Homo sapiens: one gene and its partner. The protein of the gene in region 2 purifies or fractionates together with the protein of the main gene of each other region. This does not show direct contact. Each region holds a gene or a part of one and is shown on either strand. Other genes may lie near its edges.

Region 1 (17,208 bases), on a different chromosome or scaffold from region 2:
AGATGGCTCAGAGTATACCTGCTCCTATGACCTTTGCTAAAAAGCATACTGCCCTTGCAAAGCAGCTCAAGCTATTGCTGAAAAGGTGTCATGGTTACTAAAGCTTCAATAACTTGAATAAATAAGATAAGCCTAACAATCTTGTTCTGCTTGATAAGGAATCCTCATTGGTGAGGAATCATTCCAGTCTCATATTTTTCCAAGCACTATTCTAATAATTGTGATTCTTTTTTTGTTTTTGTTTTTGTTTTGAGACAGAGTCTCACTCTGTTGCCCAGGCTGGAGTGCAGGGGCACGATCTCAGCTCACTGCAAGCTCCACCTCCTGGGTTCACACCGTTCTCCTGCCTCAGCCTCCAGAGCAGCTGGACTACAGGTGCGTGCCACCACACCCAGCTAATTTCTTTTTGTATTTTTAGTAGAGACGGGGTTTCACCGTGTTAGCCAGGATGGTCCTGATCTCCTGACTCCATGATCTGCCTGCCTTAGCCTCCCAAAAGTGCTGGGATTACAGGTGTGAGCTACAGTGCCCGGCCATAATTGTGATTCTTTAACTATGAAAACAATATTTTAGGCCAGGTGCAGCGGCTCACACCTGTAATCCCAGCACTTTGGGAGGGTGATGCAGGTGGATCACCTGAGGTCAGGAGTTTGAGACCAGCCTGGCCAATATGGTGAAACCCCGTCTCTACTAAAAAATACAAAAATTAGCCGGTTGTGGTAGCCCATGCCTGTAATCCAGCTACTCAGAAGGCTGAGGCATGAGAATCGTTTGAAACTGGGAGGAGGTTGCAGTGAGCCAAGATCACCCCACTGTACTCCAGCCTGGACAAAAGAGCAAGAAGACCCTATCTCAAAAAAAAGAAAACAATATTTTAATGTATTTGTATGTCACTATGATGCATCTCACTACACCTATACAGAAAAGTTCTGAACCACTAAAAATTCCTCTTAATGGCAGAAATTCAATTTGCATCCACATACAGATAATCCCTACCCTTAACCACTGTATACATTTATCATACTGCCTTATATATCGTAGGCTAATTAATGTCTGTTCAAACTAAATGTCTGAATACATGAATGAAGAGATCAACTTCAATAATCAATTACAGTAACATTTAACTCACTAGTTTAACCTTTACTTTCCTTTAAATTAGCTATTTATATGCCTAAGATGCACAATTAGCTATTCAGATGTCTGAGGGCAGCCAAGTCTAGTAACCAACAGCATAAACTGTGGAACCAGACTCCAGGGATTTTAACCAGAAATTCCACTTTCTAGTTGTGTGACATAATCAAGTTCCTTATCTATGCCTCAGTTTCCCGTGCCTGTAAAAAGGGTAATAATAGTTCCTACCTAAGATTGATATGAGGTTAAATGAATTAATATTTCTAAGGAACTGAGGTGTTTGGCATTATTATGTGTTTTTTGTTAAACCAAAAAAAAAAAATCAATAGCCTTTCTATATTATAAAGCTCTTTGAGGCCGAGTGTGGTGGCTCATGCCTATAAACCCAACACTTTGGGAGGCCGAGGTGGGAGGATTGCTTGAGTTCAGGTGTTTGAGACCAGCCTGGGCTACATAGTGAGCACCCTCTTTAAAAAAAAAAAAAAAACTTTAAAAATAAAAATAAAGGTCTTTGAAGGATGAACCTTATTAAATTCATCCTAGCATACTGCCTAGCATACAGCAGATGACTAATATATGTCTGAAAAATGAACATGGGTATATTTCCTACTAGAAAAGGGATGTTTACACTTTCAAATTAGAGAAGGAACCTTGAGAGAAGCTAAATATAGCACACTGAAAACTGTTGACACATCTTTTAAGAGTAAGAAGAACTTGAAGAATGAAGACACACCTAATGTCCCATTCAATACCCCCTAACAAGGGGAATAATTATGATTTCCTCTGTGACACTGCTATGTCCTGTACACATACACATATAACCCAAGGTTGTAAAAGCAAAACAAGGCTGGGCACAGTGGCTCATACCTGTAGTCCCAGCACTTTGGGAGGTCAAGGCAGGTGGATCACCTGAGGTCAGGATTCAAGCCACCCTGACCAATATGGTGAAACTCTGCCTCTATTAAAAATACAAAAATTAGCCAGGTGTAGTGGCATGTGCCTGTAGTCCCAGCTACTGGGGAGGCTGAGCCCGGGAGAACTGCTTGAATTCAGGAGGCAGAGGTTGCAGTGAGCTGAGATCATGCCACTGCACTCCAGCCTGGGTGACAAGAGCAAGACTCGTCTCAAAAAAAAAAAAAAAAAAAAAAAAAAAAGAAAGAAAGAAAGAAACAAGAAAATTTGTAGTTTCTGTAGAGCATCTCATGCCACTAACCCCAATATAACAAATCCTCTGCTCAACAATAAAAACTGAGTTCTAAAGGAAAATACATTAATATAGCACTTGACAAGTTACAAGTTACAAAGTACTTTTGCATATACTATATCATTTGATTCTCTAAAAAAAAAAAAACAACAACAAAACAGACAAATACTGATACTACCATATCATGTTTTTTTTTTGGTTTTTGGTTTTTTTTCTGAGACGGAGTCTCACTCTGTCACCAGGCCTAAGTGCAGTGGCCTGATCTTGGCTCACTGCAACCTCCACCTCCTGGGTTCAAGCGATTCTCCTGCCTCAGTCTCCTGAGTAGCTGGGACTACAGGCATGCACCACCACACCCAGCTAATTTTTGTATTTTTAGTAGAGACGAGGTTTCACCATGTTGGCCAGGATGGTCTCCATCTCTTGACCTTGTGATCCACCTGCCTCGTCCTCCCAGAGTGCTGGGATTATAGGCGTGAGCCACCATGCCCGGCCCATATGCTGTTTACAGAGGGAAAAAACTGAACCTCAGGGGAGATACTTGCTTAAAGCCTGCGCATTTATAAAGTAACATAGTAGAGATTCCAACCCTGGTCTTCTGGGCTTTAGATCCCAAATTCTTTCCTTCTCTTTTCATTATAGTAACAAAATAATAATAATAACAAATATTAATTAGTCATAATTGTCCATGTAGAAATTAAAACTTAAAAGCTTCCAAATTCATTGAATTTCTTGACACAATTTAAGGACTAATGTATAAAAAAGAGCTTGGCTAGGATTTCCTAATTACTTCAGAAGTTTTGGAAAACTCCATAAATTTATTGTAAACTGATTAACTCAATACTACAGTAAAGCATGTTTCTGAAACAGCTGTTTCAATGATTCAGAAATGAAAGCAAGTATCACTAATGTATGTACTTCCCTATTACCACATATTAAAACTAAAATTCATTTTGCCGGGCATGGTGGCTCACACCTGCCATCTCAGCACTTTGGGAGGCTGAGGTGGGCAGATCACTTGAGGTCAGGAGCTCGAGACCAGCCTGGCCAAGATGGTGAAACCCCGTAAAAATACAAAAGTTAGCCCAGTCTGGTGGCACACGCCTGTAGTCCCAGCTACTTGGGAGGCTGAGACAGGAGAATCGCTTGAACCCCGGAGGCAGAGGCTGCAGTGAGGCAATATGACACTACTGCACTCCAGACTGGGTAAGAGAGCAAGATTCTGCCTCATAAATAAATAAATAAATAAAACTAAAATCCATTTTAAAAGTCCTTTTATCTAGTACTAAGCATCACCCCATAGTAACAAAGATGCTTATCAGTGAACCTGGCTAGGAAAGCCGCTTTTTGCTATTTGAGTGCCCACAAAAACATAAAAATTAATCAACTTTATTAATGCAGTATCCTCAGTATTCACTGAGATTTCTAAGGTCTGTCATTTATTTCATTCTATCTCAACACAAATGTCATACCTTCCCTCCCACTCCCAGTTTCCACCCAATAGGTTTCCTTCCCTTTGTTTAGTGGACTACAAGTCCCCGCTAACCATCTCTAGCTGTAAATAGGGTCATTATGAATACACATCCACAATGTAAATAAACTTAGAAAAGGAACAAAAATATGTCAGCCAGATTAAATTTCTCTAAATTAAATATACCTTTGCAAAACTGTCATTTCCTAAAATTCACAAAGTTAGCTATTCAACAAAACAATAATCATTTGTCTTTTGAAAAACAAAGTTCAGAAAGTACATACCTGAAGGATTCTGAACAAATCCAGGATTTTGTGGATGAACTGGTAAAAACTGTTGTCCTTGACCAAAAGCTACTGGCTGAGCAACACCACTCAGAACCTTTAAGAAAAACCTTAATTTTAAGAACATGCTTTCTATATTTCAAGTAAAACTTTTAACATCCTAATTACATAAAAATATTCATAGATGTCACAAGGCCTGGCTTATAAATAAAGATTTAGAAAGATAACTTGGCTGCATCACTTCACTTCTAGGTCTTCTACAAACAGGAACAATAAAACCTTCCCTTATCTGTTTCATAGAGGTATAAGTTACTGAGAATGGGTTAAAACTTCTTTGAAAAGTTTAAGGTACCTACTAGAGAGGCAAAGTAGCCCCCCAAAAAGGAAACTGTAAGATACCATGCAAATATAAGGTAACTAGCTGTGTTACTTTACACAAGTCACTTTACCTTGCTGGTGCTTTCCCTTATTTTACAAATAGAAGAACTGACATAATGCAATATGATCTATACACAATCACAAGGGCTAGTTAGGAGCAAAACTGAGGCCAGAACTCCTAACCCTTGCCACTTTTCCACAGATATCAAAAGCCTGTTCTAATTAGCATTCTGAATTACCAAGCAGGTAAGCATCTTGCTTGGCCATCATCTTTGCACATGGTTATAGCCACATTACAAAGTAATCTTGTAAAAGGTCTTGTAAAAGATGTCAAAGGGAATGTTAAAAAACAGAATAGTCATGGAGCAAGAACTATACTGGCATACAAATACAGCATTTGCAGTCCAGAGGGAGGCAGGACTTCTACATATTGCTGGTATGTGAATAAATATCCATTTATAATCCTTGTTCAGTATACATGTGGACTTTTGGTAGTGAGTACACATAATAAAAACCCCACCGATTCTGTGTAATGTAGAAACAAGACTAAGTAAGTACCATTCTAGAGTATCTGTCAATAAGAGTATCATTTCTTTCAAGGATATACAGTAGAGTAAATCTAGGCAAGCCAACTGTTTTTTCGTACCATTAGAGATGAACAGAAGGACTACTTTCTATCAATAATGTTCCTAATGTACTTTTAAAATCTTTCTTATTTTGTATTTTCTTCCATGCAATCTTACTACTATAAAATAAATCTGTCATAGTAAGAAAATGTCTGCACCTGGAAAAGAAGTAAAACTCAGCCTAGGAGAATTTCAGCACGCAAGCAAAAGTAGTCATTCAAAACCAACCGAATTAATCACAAATTGTAAACATACTGCCTTAAAGTTGTCTCAGTATGCATTTTAAAATGTATACAGAACAAGTGTGAAAGAATACCAACAGGTAACAGTGCATGTTTCGTAACCAGAGTGTATTTGGAAGGCTATTCGCTATGTTGTCATTAATATCAAACAATTGTGTTTAACTGAAGTGACTGGAAAGGTGGTAAAAAGTAGGAAAAAAGGACCAAAAAAAAAGAATTGTAGACTGTGAAAGCAGGGACACAATTTGATCTTCTTATTTAACTCAGGTTAAGGAAATTCTTGGTCAAAGAACAGTTCAATCAATTCTATGGCTACCTTAAAGCACGTCAGGGCTCAACAGTTCTGCAATGTAGAGGTCTATGACACACAATTGTATAATATCTCAAAAGCTTTAAAGCAAAAAAAAAGGAAAAAGAAAAAACAGAGCTGGAGGTGGGGGTTTGATTGAGATATTTCCCTAGATCCTGAAAGAGCTAAAATCAATTTTGGATTTAAGTTGCAAATTTCATCCCCAAAAGATGCTCATCCCACTTCCTTAGCATGTGGCTTTAGAGTACATTAAAAACTTCTTTCCAATCTACACAATAAACTATGTCCTGAAAACCCTCCTAGAAACATTAAAAAATGGTTAACTTATCTGCATACAACGCAATTTTAGAATAACAGACTTACCTGTTGAGATGCCTGAATATTTCCTACTGTCATTGGAGCAGGTATATTGCCAAAGTTTCCAAATTGAGAACTCTGAAGATTTTTTTCATCAAAATAGTGTCCAGAAGCTCTGTTAAGTGGATTAGAGAAACTCTGGTTTCCAGGGCCATGTGGTCCATTAAAATTTGGTCCTTGAGGTGAATCAAATATTTGTTCATGTCTTTGGAACTGTAGTCCTTGGGATGGGGCATTAAAAGCATTGCCAGGTGGATCATTATATGGACCAGTCTGATTGAAAGATACTGATTCAAGCCTTTGTGAAGGATGATTGTCAAATCTTGTGCCTTGAAGACCAAGAGGAATATCAAACCTTGATGCTTGCTGATGTTGTGGACCATCAAATCTTTGAGGTACACCGTCAAATCTGGGTTGAACCTGCTGTCCAGGTGGTCCATCAAACCTCTGAGGGCCTGGCTGACCAGGAGTCCTTTCAAATCTAGGACCTGGCTGACCATGTAATCCATCAAATCTTGGCAAGAGTGACGGCTGACCTGGCTGCCCATCAAACCTTAAAGCATGACAACCTTCAAATCTTGGACCACCTTGACCCAGAGGCCCTTCAATTCTCAGGCCACCTCCTGGTACAGAAGGACCCTCAAACCTCATTCCACCTCCTTGTTGGACTAAAGGGCCTTCAAACCTGATACCAACCCCTGGCTGACCATGTGGACCCTCAAACCTAAGGTTCCCACCAAGTTGATTATGTTGTCCCTCAAATCTCAGACCAGCTACTGACTGACCATGGGGGCCCTCAAACCTCATTCCAACCCCTTGCTGTAGCAAAGGGCCCTCAAATCTGATTCCACCTCCTGGCTGACCATGAGGTCCATCAAACCTAATCGCAGCCCCTGATGGACCATGACCCCCCTCAAATCTAAGTCCACCTACAGGCTGACCTCGGGGATTATCAAATCTAAGTCCACCCACAGGCTGACCATGAGGTCCCTCAAACCTTAGACCACCCACAGGTTGACCACGATGTCCCTCAAACCTCAGACCACCCACAGGCTGGCCTCCTGGTCCCTCAAATCTCAAACCACCTGGAGATCCCTCAAACCTCAGACCAGGGGAACCTTCAAACCGAAAACCACCTCCTCCTGCTTGACCAATTGGGCCCTCAAACCGCAGAGGTGTCCCCACTGGTCCTGGAGGACCTTCAAATCTCAAAGGACACCCACCTCCTAGCTGACCTTGTGGCCCCTCAAATCTCAAAGGGCCTCCTCCCCCCATTTGTCCTGGTGACCCATCAAACCGAAGAGAAGCTGGTGTGGGAGGTCCATCAATTCGAGGGCTTAATTTATTGGGTCCTTCAAAAATCATCTTCGTTGGGCCATCTCTTGCTACTGATGGCCTACTAGGTCCATCAAATAACGGTCTGTCTTCAGCTAAAGCTGTAAGTCGCTGATTTGTATCCAGGCCGGCGAATCTTGATGCTGGACTATCTACAAATGGTTTATCTGAATCTTCATATCGAGGTCGCTTAAGTGGAAAACGATCATTGAATGGAGATCTCTGCTCTTCTCGCACACCTTTTAAAAAGGAAAAAAATTATTTTCACTAAAGTTATCTTAAAATCTTCTATTTTCGTATGAATGTTTATCCAAATATATAACTATCTCACTACATTAGAGGGGCAGGAGAGACCGACAGCGTAAAGCAGCAGATAAGAGGATGCCCTCTAGAGTCAGACACACCTGAGTAACAAAAAAATTACCATCCTATCAACATACTAATTATTTCATTTTGAGAGCAAGTTATTTAACCTCTCTTTTATTTCCTATCTGTAAAATAGGGAGAATATACACTTCATTGTATTGTTGTGAGGATTAAATCAAATTACATATAAAAAATACCTAATGAAGTACCTGACACACAACTGGCCTTAGAAATATTAGCTCCCTTCCCTTCCCTTTCCTTAAAGGGAAAAAACATAACAAAATAAATGGGAAAAAAAATGGTAATCTGAACAGTCACAAAAATCCATCCCCACTTAGCTTGTTCATTTTCCCTTCACTGCTGTGTGATTCAATAGGCATAATCTGATTTAACTTTTTCTACCTTTAGCAGAGACTTGCTCGTCATGTCTTCTCCGGCCCTCATGGGGTGAAAGATTCTCAGCATAAGTACGACTCCCAGATATAGGAGAAAGACGTCTTGCTCTTTCACTAAATTGTTCTTTTCTGTCAAACTGTGCTCCACTATTCCTACTTGCATGTTTACTTTTGGATGGCTCACATTCTATTCCAGACAACAAGGCATCAGTCAAAGGGTAGTCAAAAATATCAGGATCTAAGAGATCAAGTCTTGGAAATGAATGCTGAACCTGTGTCCTTTTCAGTTTTGCTTTATGTTCATAGTAGGTTAATTCAGCATCAGATAAGAGAGGTTTCTTTTTTAATCCACCTTTATTTTCTTCTGTAGGACTATCCCGTACATTGCATCTATGTTTACCTTCTTGATACTGAAATAGCTGTCGAATTTGATGCACAACAACAAGGAAGTCATCCTGTGTAATTTCACCAGATGCTAAACGTTCACTCGTCTGTATAGGGGTGATAAAAGGAAATAAAATATTTTAAATATAAAAAAATACCAAAAAAATAGACGATAGATAATGATGACTACATGGGATTAATCATAGTAACTACCTTTTGAAGTAATTCTCTTTTGCTTGCAAGAGTTAACTCTTTAGGAATCTGAAGATTGGCATCTACACTTAATCGATGCTGTTGCTGCTTTGGGGCTCGAGGTGATAAAATTCCTTTAGTGCTTGACCAGCTCTCCCTATGCCTCAGATGAGGAGGTTTACTATGTTCATCAACCTGTTGTAAGCTGAAACCATAAAAGCAGTATGTTACATTGAAATGTTTTTTTAAAAAATACTCAGGACCATATTTAAAGATTCTTTTCAAAGGATATGGTTAAAATGGGCATATGTAACCACAAAAAGTAATTAAATAAATGATTAAGAGCACAAAATATGAAATCAGCAAAAACAGATATGAATTCTGATTCTTGCATGTCCTGGACTGCAGCCTTAGGTAGATTAGTTAACCTTTCTAAACTTCAGTTTCCTTATCTGTAAAATAGAAATAATAATAGTATTTAACCCACAGAGATGTAAGAATTAGATGGAAAAAAAGTACTAATAGCACCTAATAAACATTTTCCAATTTTTAAATTAACACTATCTTTTGAAACATATACACTACTACACTTGACTTAAAATGTTAACATCATACCTTTTATTTTCTTCCCAACCAGATTTCCATCTTTTGGCAGACTTGGAACTTTGCCAGTTTTCTACATTCTCCTTTGGTTCAGTGCCTGACTTTGTAGAATGCTGATTTGTAGTTTCTTGTGGTCGCTCCTCTTCAGTCTTTTTCATTCGCCTTGGATCCCGAATATCCTGTTTAGTACTTCTCTTAGCATTTCTGTCTTCCCTAGAAGGTGGTGTAAACTCTTCCATATGTGACTGCTTAGCTCCAGATTGGCGAATCTTTCCAGCTTTAGGTGTCGATGTTGGAGACATACTTCTTTGCCTTCGTTTGGGTGACCGCCTATCTCTTCTCTTTGGGGAATGTATAATTGGTGACCTAGACTTGGGTGATCGAGATCTTGATCGCTTTCTAGTACTCGATCTCCCTGGTTTTGTCCCCTGTTTTTCTGACTCTTCTGTTATTGTATCCTGTTTTTGTACAATGCCATTTATGATTTTATTTCTACTTCCAGCCAGTCTGTGTTCGGATGACTTCATGTGCTCATCTTTATCCTTTTTTTCTGCAGTTTTTCTCTTCTCTTTCACATCATCATCTTTGCCATCGGTCTTATCCTGAAGATGTTTTTTTAATCTTGGATCTCTCTTGTTCATATCAGACAACCTCATACTTTCCGATTCTTGATTTTTCAAGTCTTTTGTGTGAGATAATTTGTTTTTCAAAGGTGAGGGTGATTTCGATTTCGATTTCGATTTAGAATCTAATTGGTCAAGTTCTTTCTTGGTTATTTTTTCACCTGATTTACTTTTTTCTTGCTTGGATGAATTTAGTTTTTCAGAGGGTATAGTTTTACTTGTCTTAGTATCAGACTGGTTTAATGTGTTCATTAGAAATTCTTTCCTGTGACTCTGATCTTTTCCATGAGAATGTTGGCTTATCCTGTTCAGACGAGGATCCCGGTTAGTTCCTTTTAAATCCTGAATTTGTAAGGATGGTCCTGGACGGCTTTTCTCAGATTGCACAGGAACCTGATGAGGAGCTTTAACTGCCATAGGGGGAATCTGTGAAACATGTAATTTGGATGGTGCAGATCCAGGACCTAAATTGGATGTTTCCTGCTGAACACTAAGAGAAACTGCCTAAAACACAAAATAAATGTTCATGTTAACACTGCAGAACATGCAGATTGTCAAGAAATTGCAAACAACTGAAGAAGATAATGCTTTATTCAATAAATATATTTACTCAACACTACATTTAAATTGTACACTTATAATGTATAAATTGAGATTACAATGAAAAGAAAAAGTCCATGATTTAAGTTGCCCATTATTTCTTACTAGTATTTTTTGAGACTTTATAATATAATCTCTAAATAGAATGAAAAAAAATTGTTTCTCTTCCTTATTGTTCAGGATTCTGAGCCATACTGCTCCTAAGAAATTGCTAAATCACTACACTCCGGCTGCACAAGAATCAGAGTCATTTCAGCTAAATTCTAAGTCCTAAAATTTAGTTTCTCCCAAAGTGGTGCTATTAATGAACTTATAAAATTCTGCCTTCCTGCACCTCACTGTCGAATAAGCTCAGATGCTAAGCAAAATAACTTAGTATAAAGTCATTTATGTGTAGAAAGATATAATCTTCCTGGCCTCCTTAATTTTGTCATTTCTGTTCATGGAGCATAAGCTCATAAAACATTAAAGACTATGCAAAAATATTTGCCACAACATGCCTACCATCTTGGGACTGAAATATTAAGTCCACATAATGTAATGATTAAACAAAATTAAGATGCTATTTTATAAGATAGCAATCTAACAGAAAACTGTTTGGAGGAAATAGTGTAGTTTTGTAGTTTTTGGAGGGTTTTCTTGAGACAGGGTCTTGATCTGTCACTCAAGCTAGAGTGCAGTGAAGCAATCATAGCACACTGCAGCCGCAAGTGATCCTTCCAACTCAGCCTCTCGAGTAGCTGGGATCACAAGGATGCACTACCCCACCTGGCTAATTTTTTTTTTTTTGGTAGGGCCTCACTATGTTGCCCAGGCTGGCCTCAAACTCCTAAACTCAAGCGATCCTCCCACCTCAGACTTCCCAAGTGTTGGGATTACAGGCATGATCCACTGCGCCTGGCCTATGCAGTTTTTAATCAAGTGAATTTTACAATAAAGATATAAAAGTATAGTCTAATAAATATACTCATTTGTAAAATAAAAGTGAAAAAAGAGTACACTATTAATAAAAGTAACATGTTAATAAAATTCAAACATAAACATTACTTCCCTATTGTTAGACAGGTTTAAAATATTTAAAATGACAATCTCCCTTACTTACCAACTGTGCCTTAGCTTGCTCTAGCTCAAGCTCCAGCTTTTTCTGCTGAAGTTCTAACAACTGTTTTTGCTTTGCCAGTAACTGCTGCCTTATTAGTTGTTCTTGTGTAAGATTCTTTTGTATATCAGGAACAATTGGAGGAGTGGAGATGCTAGGGGAACTGACCACTGTACCAGGTGTTGAAGGCTCCTCGGGCTATAAGAAAAGACAATTTGTTTAAGAAAAACGTATCAGCTAAAACGGAAGCTAGGGAGTAAAAATTATCAGCTTAACTCTTAATATGATCCAAATTCCTATCACACAGAAAACTTATCAGAAATTTAAAACCCAAAATAAATGTTACATAATACCTAAACAAGGTGAATATATTTCTAAATAAAAATTCCAAACATATACACACTATTTTTTTTTTTTTCAAATTGAACCAATTCACTACCGAGTATTCTATTTTGACTTTCTGGCAGTAAGTTCTGCAGAAGAATTCAAAATGTGATACTTAAAAGTATGTTACTTACTATTCATATTAAAACTTACCGATTTATTTAAAAATTTAGGATTCACATGGATGCTAGACGTATTCACATTGGGGGGTAGAGGTTTAATAGGCCAAGCAGGATCTAATGAATTGACTCTGACATCCAGGGCATAAAGTTTCTTCAAAGGGAATATTTCATCCCATGTAGAACGTAACTTAAATAAACTTTTCCTAGTATTTTCATCCACCTAGAACAACAGAACAATTCTATGGCTTGTTAAGTTACTATAGAATATTTTATATATTAAATATAAGTTATATAAATCTGCTCTACTTCACATACAGAACTGTACTACCCATTGGTAAGTATATACAACAGTAATAATTTATTAAAGGTGCATTTCTCCTTCAAAAACAGAGTAATTAAAACCATTTTCACCTAGCCTTCATGCAAGCAACCAACCAGGTGAGCCTTTCTATATACAAAACGTTTCCACATCTTAGAGCTTAGTATAATATTCCTAAAGTTACTCTTTCTCTGGGAAAAAAAAATGTAAGACAACTAGAAAATATAAAACTAAAAAATATAAAACAACTAGAAAAATTGATTACCTGATGGCTTAAATGTTTTAAATTATTTACATAGTAGTACAAAGTTAAAATTAAAGCAAAACTATCTCACTAACTAATGCTCAGCAATACTATATGGTTGGGTACATAGGAACAAGATATTGTGGTGTGGAAAGCACTTTAACAACTGAAATTCACAAAATCTTAACCACTGATAAGCCTTAGTTTTAAATAACTTTTCTGTTCAGGTTTGTGATGGCGTAAAAATGTTTAGAAAATTTGCCATTGCCAGGCACGGTGGCTCACGCCTGTAATTCCAACACTTTGAGAGGCCGAGGCAGGTGGATCACCTGAGGGAGTTCAAGACCAGCCTGACCAACAATGGTGAAACCCCGTCTTTACTAAAAATACAAAATTAGCCAGGCATGATGGCTCATGCCTGTAATCCCAGCTACTCGGGAGGCTGAGGCAGGAGAATCACTTGAATCCGGGAGGCGGAGGTTGCAGTGAGCCGAGATTGTGCCATTGCACTCCAGCTTGGGCAACAAGAGCAAAACTCCATCTCAAAACAAAAAAAAGAAAAAGAAAGAAAATTCGCCATCAAGAAACCTAGGACTTGGGAAAACTGAGTTAGATTTTCAACATTAGGATAGACAGTAAAGCCTTAACTATATTCATAAGTCTTCAGATAATAATGTATTTATTACAAGGTCATTTTAATCAACTGTCATGTTAATGCCCAGTTAGATTCAGTAAAGGTATGCTACCAAACACCCAAGTGAATTTGAACATACTGAAACCGAAACCAAGAGGTTGGTTAAGCTTCTCCTTAAGACTACAGCCTCTGGTTAGCAGTATTCAGCAAATGTCTACAATATTCTATTAACAAGCATTTTAATGCTATATGATATAGAGCTTTCCAGATTTCTTCTGCATATACTGTTTTTCTCTAAGAACTTAAAAACATTTCTCAAATAGCAACTACTTATTTTCTAATAAACATGTAAAATCTAATACTGAATAGTTCTTCCAAAAAAAATTCCAATTCTACAAATCTGACAACTGACACACAGGTGTTCATCTACTAAAATATAATAACTACCACCAAATATTGACGTTAGGAAACAATCTTTAAACCTAAGTATCTCATAAGTGCCTTTTTGTTCAATGTGAAAGATATAGCCTGACAGGCAGAGAATTACCTCAGCAAATCCCTTGTCCTCCTCAACATAATACTGCTTTAACCAAACCACCATGTTACAGTGTTATGGAAGAAATTTACAATCTCTAGATATGAAAAATAAGCCTAATTTCTGAACACTAAGGTAGGGGCAAAAGTATTTCCAGAATAACCAACAGCAATTAACTGGTCCACCATTCACACATACCAACAACATTCACCTAAAACATACCTTGAACAATGTAACAAAAGTAAACATTTCCAGAAAACAAAACAAAAAAACACACAAGTTTCAGGAACCAATCACAGGTTGAGACACTGAGGGATTATGCTTTTTACCCCCCCAAGAGAACAGTCAACATCCTAACACCAGAAATGTAAACAATGAAATTTTAATTACTCTTGACGATTTCAGATCTTTTTGCCTGGTTTGTAAGTGATGAAACAGATGTTCAAATGAACACACTCAATTTTTTTAAAAAGCACAATTCTAAAAGCAAATCCATCTATTCTTAAATGGATAATGTAAACCCCTAGAATCTGTTCTAAAAATCTAACATAAAACATTAACTTCAGCCTCTTTCTTTGAAATGGTACTAACGATAAATGTCCAAAAGTATAAAACATTTCACCACCCAAGAAAACCCAACACAAAGCAAATATTTATTTAATCAGGAACACATTTTTTAAAAAAAAACGCAAATGTTTCTAAATGCATATGTACCTTTTCAAACACACAAATAAATGTTGCAACTAGATTTTTAGTAAAGGCAGTGAGATACTCTCTTCCAACGTTTTTCACAATAGAATCCATAAGGTACATAACAGGAAGCTTCTCTGAGGAAGGAGCCTGAATAAAAAGAAACTGAGAAGTTTAGTATAATGAATTACCACCAAATAATTATTTAAAAATGAGTTTTTAAACCTACAATACAGACCTCTATTTTTGTTGATACTAAATATTTTTGAAGTAATCTTTATGAAACTTAAGTGTTCAATCAAGCTCTCAACTCTCACAATCCTTAGTTGAGCACAAAAAAGCTCAGAATTACCAGGATGAACAACAGCTGTAATCCCTAATATACTCATTTAACACTCAATGAAATTTCAAGTTCATGTGGTAAAAAGACCTGTGTTTTAAGTGACAAAAATAAGGAGGAGGCGAGGGAAAATTACTTTATATAATCCAAGTGTCAGTTTTGTGACCCATATTAACTTACAACGGTGTGCCTACACTCAAAGCAGTTTTTAGACCTCTTGTAGAAACTAATTTCCATGGGCATATTTTATATGTTCAAGTCTATGAAGCTTTTGTTACCTGTAAAATCATTAGGATTACTTCTCTATAATCCAAATGAACAAAAATTAAAAACACTTCACCTAGGAAGTCAATGGCAAAACACTGAAACTTGCACACGAACATGCAGGAAGTTGCAAGTTTGTTACTCAGACAAGAAAAACTGGATGGAGCAGCCGCTGAATCATGTAAATCAGGTTGAACTTGACTCTGGAAACCAGGATTTGTCCTGAAGATTTTCTTCACAGCCTGGACTCTCCGCCGAGATATTTTCCTCTGACATGCACAAACCAGGGGTTATAAATTTGTGCAGAGCCAGTGTGGTGATGCTGATACAGGTGGCCCTTTCCAAAGTAAAGAAATGTTGCCCCAGTTCAACTGCAATGCCTACCCACCACTGGCTTTTAGAAGGCACAGCAAGCTTCCAGAAAGCATCAGCAGGTTCACAGACTTGTTGAGGAGCATTAAGACACACCATAATAGTTTTAACTCTGACTCCAAAGGAGCACCCATGATTTAAAATAAAAAAAAAAGACAAAAAAAAAAAAAAAAAAAAAACTTAGGTTATCCCCATTTACCCACCCCACGTGTATAGGAATCTTAACCCTAAGTAACACTTACCCATAGCTGCCTGAAGCTAGGGTAGGCTCACAGTTCTGGAGTACACAATGCCATCATATATAATAAAACCAATTGCCCATACAAGTGTGTGGAAATGCTCTTGCTTCTGATAACACCTTTACAACCAAAAGTTGGCTAAGGGAAGCTTTGAATAACTTTGTATGAAAAATTTCTTTTAAGGTACTGTCTAATAAAAGGGTTCACCCACTGCATGTGGGTCAACTATATTAAGTACGAACATGTCAAATGGTTTACTGCTGTGTCTTTACCTTACCATGTCATGTTTTACACCATTTTAGTCATTATTGTACTTATGAAGATAAACAGGCTCTCTTAAACACCAAAGTCTGTTAAGTAGGCTAATTTTTTATTGTACAAGTGAAGTCCTTTTATGTATTATTTTTCGCTACTGCTCTCTCTTGGGAGGAGTCAAATTAAGTGTGAATCCTTTAAGTTTAGTAACGCAGAGAAGCTAAAGAATAAGGACACAAACATTCACCTCCAAAACACAAAACCAGGCCAGTTTGCTACCAAATAACGGAAATCCCTCCCCTCACCCTCGATCCCAACCCAGATTAAGATAGATCCCCCAAAGTGACTTTTACATCTTTTCCTCAACCTGGCTTTACAAAAATAACCAGGAAACGTGTGCCCCCAAAATTTCAGCTGTCTTTTACCAGCAAAGAGCTCATCTATTTTCATCACTGTGTAGCGATATACAAACACAAGTTTTATGTGGTCACTATATTCAGCATTTAGTTTTCGGTTCTCGAAGGTCTTCCGGATCCATTAAAAACCAGCAAGGTTCTTTGAGTGACAACCTGAGCTGCTAAATATTAGGCGCTGTGGAATATTAAATCCCAAGATACGAGGTAATTAGATTTTAAAAATCAATGTTTTTGCCTTAAAAACACAAGTGCTTTAAGGCATTTAATGTCAAGTTAAGCCTTCAACAAGGCAAAAACTAAGTTTTCATGTCCAAGATGTTTGTGGTATCAATAAAAAGCATGTTGAGTATGACGAATGCTTCCTTTTTAAATCTCACACTTAAAAAAAAAAGCTGTTTTACATACACTTTCACAGGAAAAAGTGAACGAAAACTTGTATCTTAGCTGTCAGACTGAGCATGATAAACTTGTTGAGGTCCTTAAAAGGAAAAAGAAAAAAAACCCTTCCTTTTCGTCCTCTTTAAATTATGAAAGGACCACCTGAAACCGTGTATCTTGTGAAGAGGTTTACCCAAAAGAGTGGATGGAACCTAAAGAAGAATGAACCCAAGTCACTTAAAGACTTTTGTTTAAAACACACAACCACGTAGATAAAAATAAGTCTTGGAAACAGATTCTACACCTTACAAAGGTAAATAAAAAAGACAAATACATATTTTATATGTTTTATTCACAAATTTTATAATACCAGTCACACATTTCAAAACCATTTATTAGAGTCAGACCACTCAAGT
Region 2 (7,000 bases):
TTATTAGCCAAATTGGTAATGTTGAAATAGCAGCCATGGTATAAAACCAGAGGATTACTAATGTTCAGATAACCATTTCTCTAAGCATTTAAGGATAGTGTTATCTACACTTGAAAGTTAAAGTATGGAGGAGCAGCTTGATCTAATGGAAGCTCTGGCTTTAAGAGTCCAGAGAGCAAGATTCCAGTCTCTGCTGTTTCATTAACTTTAGTTAACTGTACAAATCCTGTGTCTGAGTACAATATATGCACTTTTTTTGTACCATGGTTTCTTTATGCTAATGTCTGTCATGGTAAATTACATTCTTCAGTTCTCATGTTAGATGTTTGTCTTCGGATCACAGGTACCCTCTTACCAATTATACTTTTGGTACAAAAGAGCCCCTCTACGAGAAGGACAGCTCTGTTGCAGCCAGATTTCAGCGCATGAGGGAAGAATTTGATAAAATTGGAATGAGGAGGACTGTAGAAGGGGTTCTGATTGTACATGAGCACCGGCTACCCCATGTGTTACTGCTGCAGCTGGGAACAACTTTCTTCAAACTGTAAGTAGTGTTGGAAATTAACAGCAAGACAGTTTTTAGTAGGATTGCTGTTTATGCAGCTCTGGAATACAATTTTAGCCCTCGGTCATTCATTTCAACAAACACTGCTGTTAATGATGTCTTTAGAAAGAGAAAATCATGAGTAATTTTTCTCCATTGCAGTGCTCATTTATTTTCCTAACTAGTAATCTGTATGTTTCTGTATGTTGTTGATGTTAATGATTGAGCTTGGTAGAAACCCCATGGAATAGTTGAGTCCAAGATCAATGTCTAGATGTCATTGTAGCATTACCAAGAACAATTGATATTTCTTTCTTGGTATGATTAGCATTTCCTGTTCTTAAGATGACTTAGGTTTTTGTGGATAACAGTTTAGTGTTTTATCATTTAAGCTCCTACATCTCTCAAACATTTGATCCGTAACTATTTGACTAGATTATACCAAAAAGAAAAGTCTCCAATACTTAGATGACGTTCTTGAAAAAGTTTCCCATTCTTTAGGCCTAAAGAATGTGATCCATTCCTCTCTGAGCATTTCTAGACTCCATTATCATCAGATAGCTCCCAGAGAGGAGATTGGGATGGACTGGTGGTTAGCAATTTTGTTTATGTTTGTGCTATGTTATATATTCTGTTTGTTTAAAACTAGGGTTTATGTGATGGGTACATATGGACATAAAGTTGGAAAAAATAAACACTGTATACTCCAAAGGTGGGGAGGGTGAGGGGGAGGCGAGGGTTGAAATACTTCCTATTGGATGTTATGTTCACTGTTTCAGTGATGGGTTCACTAGAAGCCTAAACCTTAGCATTACACAATATACCTATGTAACAAACTTGTACATGTACCCGTTGAATCTACAATAAAATAAAAATAAATATATACGAAGAGGAAAAAAACCTAGGGTTTGTATACTGTTAGTCTGGGGAATTGACATGAATTCAAGCATATTCTCCCCCTTCACTTTGATACTTGTTTTGATTGCCTTATTATGCTGAAATATGTTCTTAGTGACTTGGTAGAAATAACAATTATTGTGTTATTTGTTATCTCCAAATTGTATTAAGTTGAAAGCTGAAATTCTTAACTTTTATACAGACCTGGTGGTGAACTTAACCCAGGAGAAGATGAAGTTGAAGGACTAAAACGCTTAATGACAGAGGTATTTTTCTGTTTAACCACTTTGAATACCATCAACTTACTAGTTATTTGGCTTTTAATGTCTTGTAAAAAGGATGCTTATTTTGGAATATTTAGTTTTCAATAAATACAACTTAAACTCCAGAAGGTTAGTACAATGTTGATTTTTTTTTACAAGTTGAAGTTACACTTATTTCAATTTTTAAAATGTTAAACTGTGTCACAGCAATGGTAAATTAAAACTGACATTTAAGTATTACTGTGCTAGACACTGTTCTGAGTGCTTTACATGCGCTAATTCCTTTAATCACCACCACAACTGTAGGAAGTAGATATTATTAAGTTTAAATTACTTCTTGTTATATAGCTAGTGTGTTGTAGAGCCAGAGGTTTGAATGCAGGTAGTTTTGTTCAAGAGTAGGCCTCTATAGAATTTTGAAAAGAGAAAGATGCCTGTGTTTTCACTTTTTTCACATATTTTTTAGACTTTGCCCAAATTATTCTACTTTTTAAAAATCATTGTAATGCCTGCATGTAAAGACTTGGGGCCAAATGCATAGATACTGAGGATTTTGAGATTGTAAATTGTTTTCAATGTTAGTTTTCTTCTTTAACATTCAATTGCCGCCTGCCCCTGTTACAAAGCTCATATATTCTCTGTGCAAAAAGCTTGGCAAACACAGAAAAGCAAAGGAGAAACAAAACTAAAGTCACCCGTAATTCTCCCACTTTTGACCTATTGGTTTGTCTTTCTAGTATTTCTAAAAATGTATTATAACTCTTAAACATTTTCCTGTGCTTGGACTTCCATTTATATAATGTATGGTACAAAGATATAAGTCCATTAAGGTTGAGGGAGTGCAAAATGAGAGAATCACAAAAGCAAAATTTTTGGAAACTGGAAAACAGATGGGCAAATTATAACTAACTTAGCAGAAACCTTAGTCCAGCAGACAGGCAGGCAGAATCTAGCATTGCAGAGTACCAGAATGACTGAGGAACTGAAGGTGCTAGGTACTTATGAAAGTGGGGGCATGCATGGGCTGAAAACTGGACTGGTTCAAAGTATATATGGAGTATATTTATACAGGTTGTGTATTCCTTATCTGAGAGCTTGGGACCAGAAGTGTTTAGCTGCTATTTGATAGCACAACAGGGTGACTATAGTCAATAATCACTTAATTGTAAATTTAAAAATAACTAAAAGAGTATAATTGGATTGTTTGTAGCACAAAGGATAAATGCTTGAGGGGGTGGATATCCCATTCTCCATGATGTGAATATTACGCATTGCATGCCTGTATCAAAACATCTTGTGTACTCAAAAAAATTAAAAATTAAAAAAGTGGTTAGGATTTGGGATTTTTTTCAGGTTTTGGAATATTTGCATTATACTTACCAGTTAAGCATCCCATATACAAAACTTGAAATGCTCCAATGAGCATTTCCTTTTTTTTTTTCTTGAGACGAAGTCTCTCTCTTGTCACCCAGGCTGGAGTGCAATGGTGCAATCTTGTCTCACTGTCACCTCCGCCTCCCGGGTTTAAGCGATTCTCCGGCCTCAGCCTCCCGAGTAGATGGGATTAAAGGTGCCTGCCTCCACGCCCAGCTAATTTTTGTATTTTTAGTAGAGACAGGGTTTCACCATGTTGACCAGGCTGGTCTAGAACTCCTAACCTCAGGTGATCTGCCTGTCTTGGCCTTCCAAAGTGCTGGGATTACAGGCATGAGCCACCACGCCCGGCCTGAGCATGTCCTGTGAGCATCATGTCAGTGCTCAAAAAGTTTGAGATTTTGGAGTTTCAGATTGGGATGTTCAACCTGTGTATCTAGATTGTCTTCCCCACTCTGTAATTAGGCAAAGACTGGCTGATGATTCTCTGTAGTAATTGAATCAGAGAACAACTAGCAATGAAAAAAGTTTAGGGGATGGGGAGAATAAGAGTTCCTATTCTGAATAGTCAGACTCTTGGACCTCTATTAGGCTGACAGAATGTTAACAATTAGGCTTGTTTTTTTTTTTTTTTGTTTTTGTTTTTTTTTTTTTGAGGCGGAGTTTCACTCTTGTCGCCCAGGCTGGAGTGCAGTGGCGTGATCTCCAATGTGAGCAATGGTTGCTCACTGCAACCTCTGCCTCCTGGGTTCAAGCGATTCTCCTGCCTCAGCCTCCAGAGTAGCTGGGATTACAGGTGCCCACTACCATGCCCAGCTAATTTTTATATTTTTAGTAGAGATGGGGTTTCACCGTGTCGGCCAGGTTGGTCTCGAACTCCTGACCTCAGGTGATCTGCCTGCTTTGGCCTCCCAAAGTGTTGGGATTACAGGTGTGAGCCACTGTCAGTCTAGGCTTACTTATTTTTTTTAGAGACAGGGTCTCACTCTGTTCCTCAGGCTGGAGGATGGTGGTGTGATCATAGCTCACTGTAACCACAAACTCCTGGGCTCAAGCAATCTTCCTGCCTCAGCTTCCTGAGTAGCTAGGACTGCAGGTATGTGCCCATGATGCCTGGCTAATTAAAGAAAAGTTTTTTATAGAGATGAGATCGTGCTATGTTGCCCAGGCTGGTCTCAAACTCCTGGCCTGAAGCAGTCCTCCCAAAGCATTGGGATTACATGCATGAGCCACCAGGCCCAGCCAACAATTAGATTTATATATCCCAGGCTGAGGGTTGGAATTCTTGTTTCTGGAAAAAGTGACCAGTCCAAGAAAAACTTCAGATACTGCCATTTGGGAGCTGTCTTCGTCTGTTTAATGTTGCTATAACAGAATACCTGAGGCTGGGTAATTTATAAAGAAAAAGATTTATTTGGCTCACCAGTTCTGGTGGCAAGATTGGGCAGCTGGTGAGGGCTTCATGGTGCTTCCACTCATGGCAGAAAGCAAAATGGGAGTGGGCATGTGCAAAGAGACATGGCAAGGGAGGAAGCAAGAGTGAATCCAGGAAGCCACACTCTTTAACAACCCTCTCTCCAGGGAACTAATCCATTCCTGATGGAGGAAGGGTATTAAACTATTCATGAAGGATCCACCTGCATGACTCAAACACCTTCCACTAGGCCCTGCCTGCCAACACTGTCACATTGGGGATCAAATTTCAACATGAGTTTGGGGGCAGGGAGACAAACCATATCCAAACCAAAGCAAGAATTTTCTATAGAAATAATGTAGTCCTGGGCCAGGCGCGGTGGCTCACACCTGTAATCCCAGCACTTGGGGAGGCCAAGGCGGGTGGATCATGAGGTCTGGAGTTTGAGACCAGCCTGACCAGCATGGTGAAACCCCGTCTCTACAAACATAAACAAATTAGCTGGGCGTGGTGGCGGGTGCCTGTAATCCCAGCTACTCGGGAGGCTGAGGCAGGAGAATCAGTTGAACCCAGGAGGTGGAGGTTGCAGTGAGCCAAGATCATGCCACTGCACGCCAGCCTGGGCAACAGAGCAAGACTTCGTCTCAAAAAAAAAAAAGAAAAAAAAATATTGTAGTCCTATCACTCATGCACACAGAGGTGACAATTAAGCATCTTGTTGCTTCTCCCTTGTGAGTACACAACCAACTATCACCAGGCTTTTGGAGAAAACTTCTTAACAAGAAAAAGATCAAAAGAAGCAAAAGGACCTCAACAGAAGCAGAAAATTCAACCATTGACAAAACTATGATTAATATTCTTGGTGAGATGAGAGGAGATTTTGCACCTGTGAAACAGTGCTATTAAAAAGACATTTTAGCCAAGAAAAACCTCATGGATATTAAAAAAATGTTGGAAGAAATGAAAAATTCAGTAAAGAGTTAAGAGGTTCATTCTACCAGAAAATAGAATGAAAAGATAAAAAGATAGAATGTAGGTAAGAATAGATAAAATTAGTGGGTCATTCTAGAAGGACCAATATAAACTATAGATAAATAGAACAGAGTAAAAGGAAGAATTAGCAAAGCATAATTAGAGAAAATTTCTCAAACCTCAAAGGGCATGAGTTTTGAGATTGAGAAGACCTACTGGCCTTGCCTCTATAGTGAATGTTTAAAGATCCACGCAAAGGCATATCATCATGACGTTTTAGATCCTACAAACGAAAATAAAAACAAAAAGATGTAAAAGCTTCCAAAGTGGGAGGTGGAGGATTGGTAAGCAGAGAGGTTAAATGCAAAACATCAAAATCAGAAATTGCATTAAACTACCCAGAAATAATTCTGGAAGCTAAGGGATGGTGGAGTGTTGTCTTTGTAATTTTGAGAGAATATAATCTCTGTCCTAGAATTTTCTAATCAAACTATAAATCAAGTGTGTGGGTAAAAGTTACTTCTAGACATGCAGAGTTTCAAAAAGTTACATCTCTTGTACCTTTTCTCAGGAAGCTACTAGAGGGTGTTCACCCCCAAAATGGAATAAAATAAGGACTCCAGCTGTGAAGCAGGGTTGAGACTATCAAGTACAGATTACAGCAGGATGATAGAAAAACGTGTCTTAGGCTGGGTGTGGTGGCTCATGCCTGCAATTTCAGCACTTTGGGAGGCTGAGATGGGCAGATCACGTGAGCCTAGGAGTTTGAGACCACCCTTGGCAACATGGTGAAAAATTAGCCTGGTGCTGTGGCTTGCATCTGTAGTCCCAGCTACTCGGGAGGCTGGGGGCAGGGGAGGCTGAGGTGAGAGAAGCGCTTGAACCCATGAGGTGGAGGTTGCAGTGAGTGGAGATCGCGCCATTGCGCTCCAGCCTGGGTGACAGATCTTGTCTTGAAAAAAGGAAAAACATGTCTTAGAAAAGATGAAATTAATAGAATAACTGACAATTGATATTTGAATTGGGAAGAAATTTAAGTTATCATGGAGAATGTGGGAAATGAATTTAGTGATAGCAAAGGAAATGAAAGTTATTAACTAAAGAATAGGACAGTTGAACAAGTAAGGAGATACGGTTTGCTAATCATTGCTCTGTTGTGACTGATCTACCGGATCATACTAACTTAAATACTGAATATTGACTTAACCAAATATTGATAATGGGAAGATGGTGGAAGAAAAAGTGTAACTAGGATGTGTGATTTTAATATCTAAATTCTCATTCATAGTAGAGGGTTATAGGCTTTTAAAAAATGTTTTTAAAATGAAAATCAAGAGGCCAGGCGCAGTGGCTCACGCCAGTAATCCCAGCACTTTGGGAGGCCGAGGCAGGTGGATCACAAGGTCAAAAGATCGAGACCATCCTGGCCAACATGGTGAAACCCTGTCTCTACTAAAAATACAAAAAAGCTGGGTGTGGTGGCGGGCACCTGTGGTCCCAGCTACTCGGGAGGCTGAGGCAGGGGAGTCGCTTGGA

Evidence for each region.
Region 1: the proteins of NUDT21 (region 2) and PCF11 fractionate together in Homo sapiens (co-fractionation; 2 studies listed by BioGRID). This does not show direct contact.

What each region holds. Positions count from the first base shown.
Region 1 is NC_000011.10:83,158,797-83,176,004, reverse strand, and holds part of PCF11 (pre-mRNA cleavage complex 2 protein Pcf11), read right to left. Parts: intron 14,679-17,208; coding exon 14,553-14,678; intron 12,327-14,552; coding exon 12,138-12,326; intron 11,799-12,137; coding exon 11,604-11,798; intron 10,406-11,603; coding exon 9,291-10,405; intron 8,881-9,290; coding exon 8,697-8,880; intron 8,591-8,696; coding exon 8,107-8,590; intron 7,578-8,106; coding exon 6,010-7,577; intron 4,188-6,009; coding exon 4,091-4,187; intron 1-4,090. UniProt on the Homo sapiens protein: Component of pre-mRNA cleavage complex II, which promotes transcription termination by RNA polymerase II.
Region 2 is NC_000016.10:56,441,333-56,448,332, reverse strand, and holds part of NUDT21 (cleavage and polyadenylation specificity factor subunit 5), read left to right. Parts: intron 1-343; coding exon 344-544; intron 545-1,643; coding exon 1,644-1,707; intron 1,708-7,000. UniProt on the Homo sapiens protein: Component of the cleavage factor Im (CFIm) complex that functions as an activator of the pre-mRNA 3'-end cleavage and polyadenylation processing required for the maturation of pre-mRNA into functional mRNAs.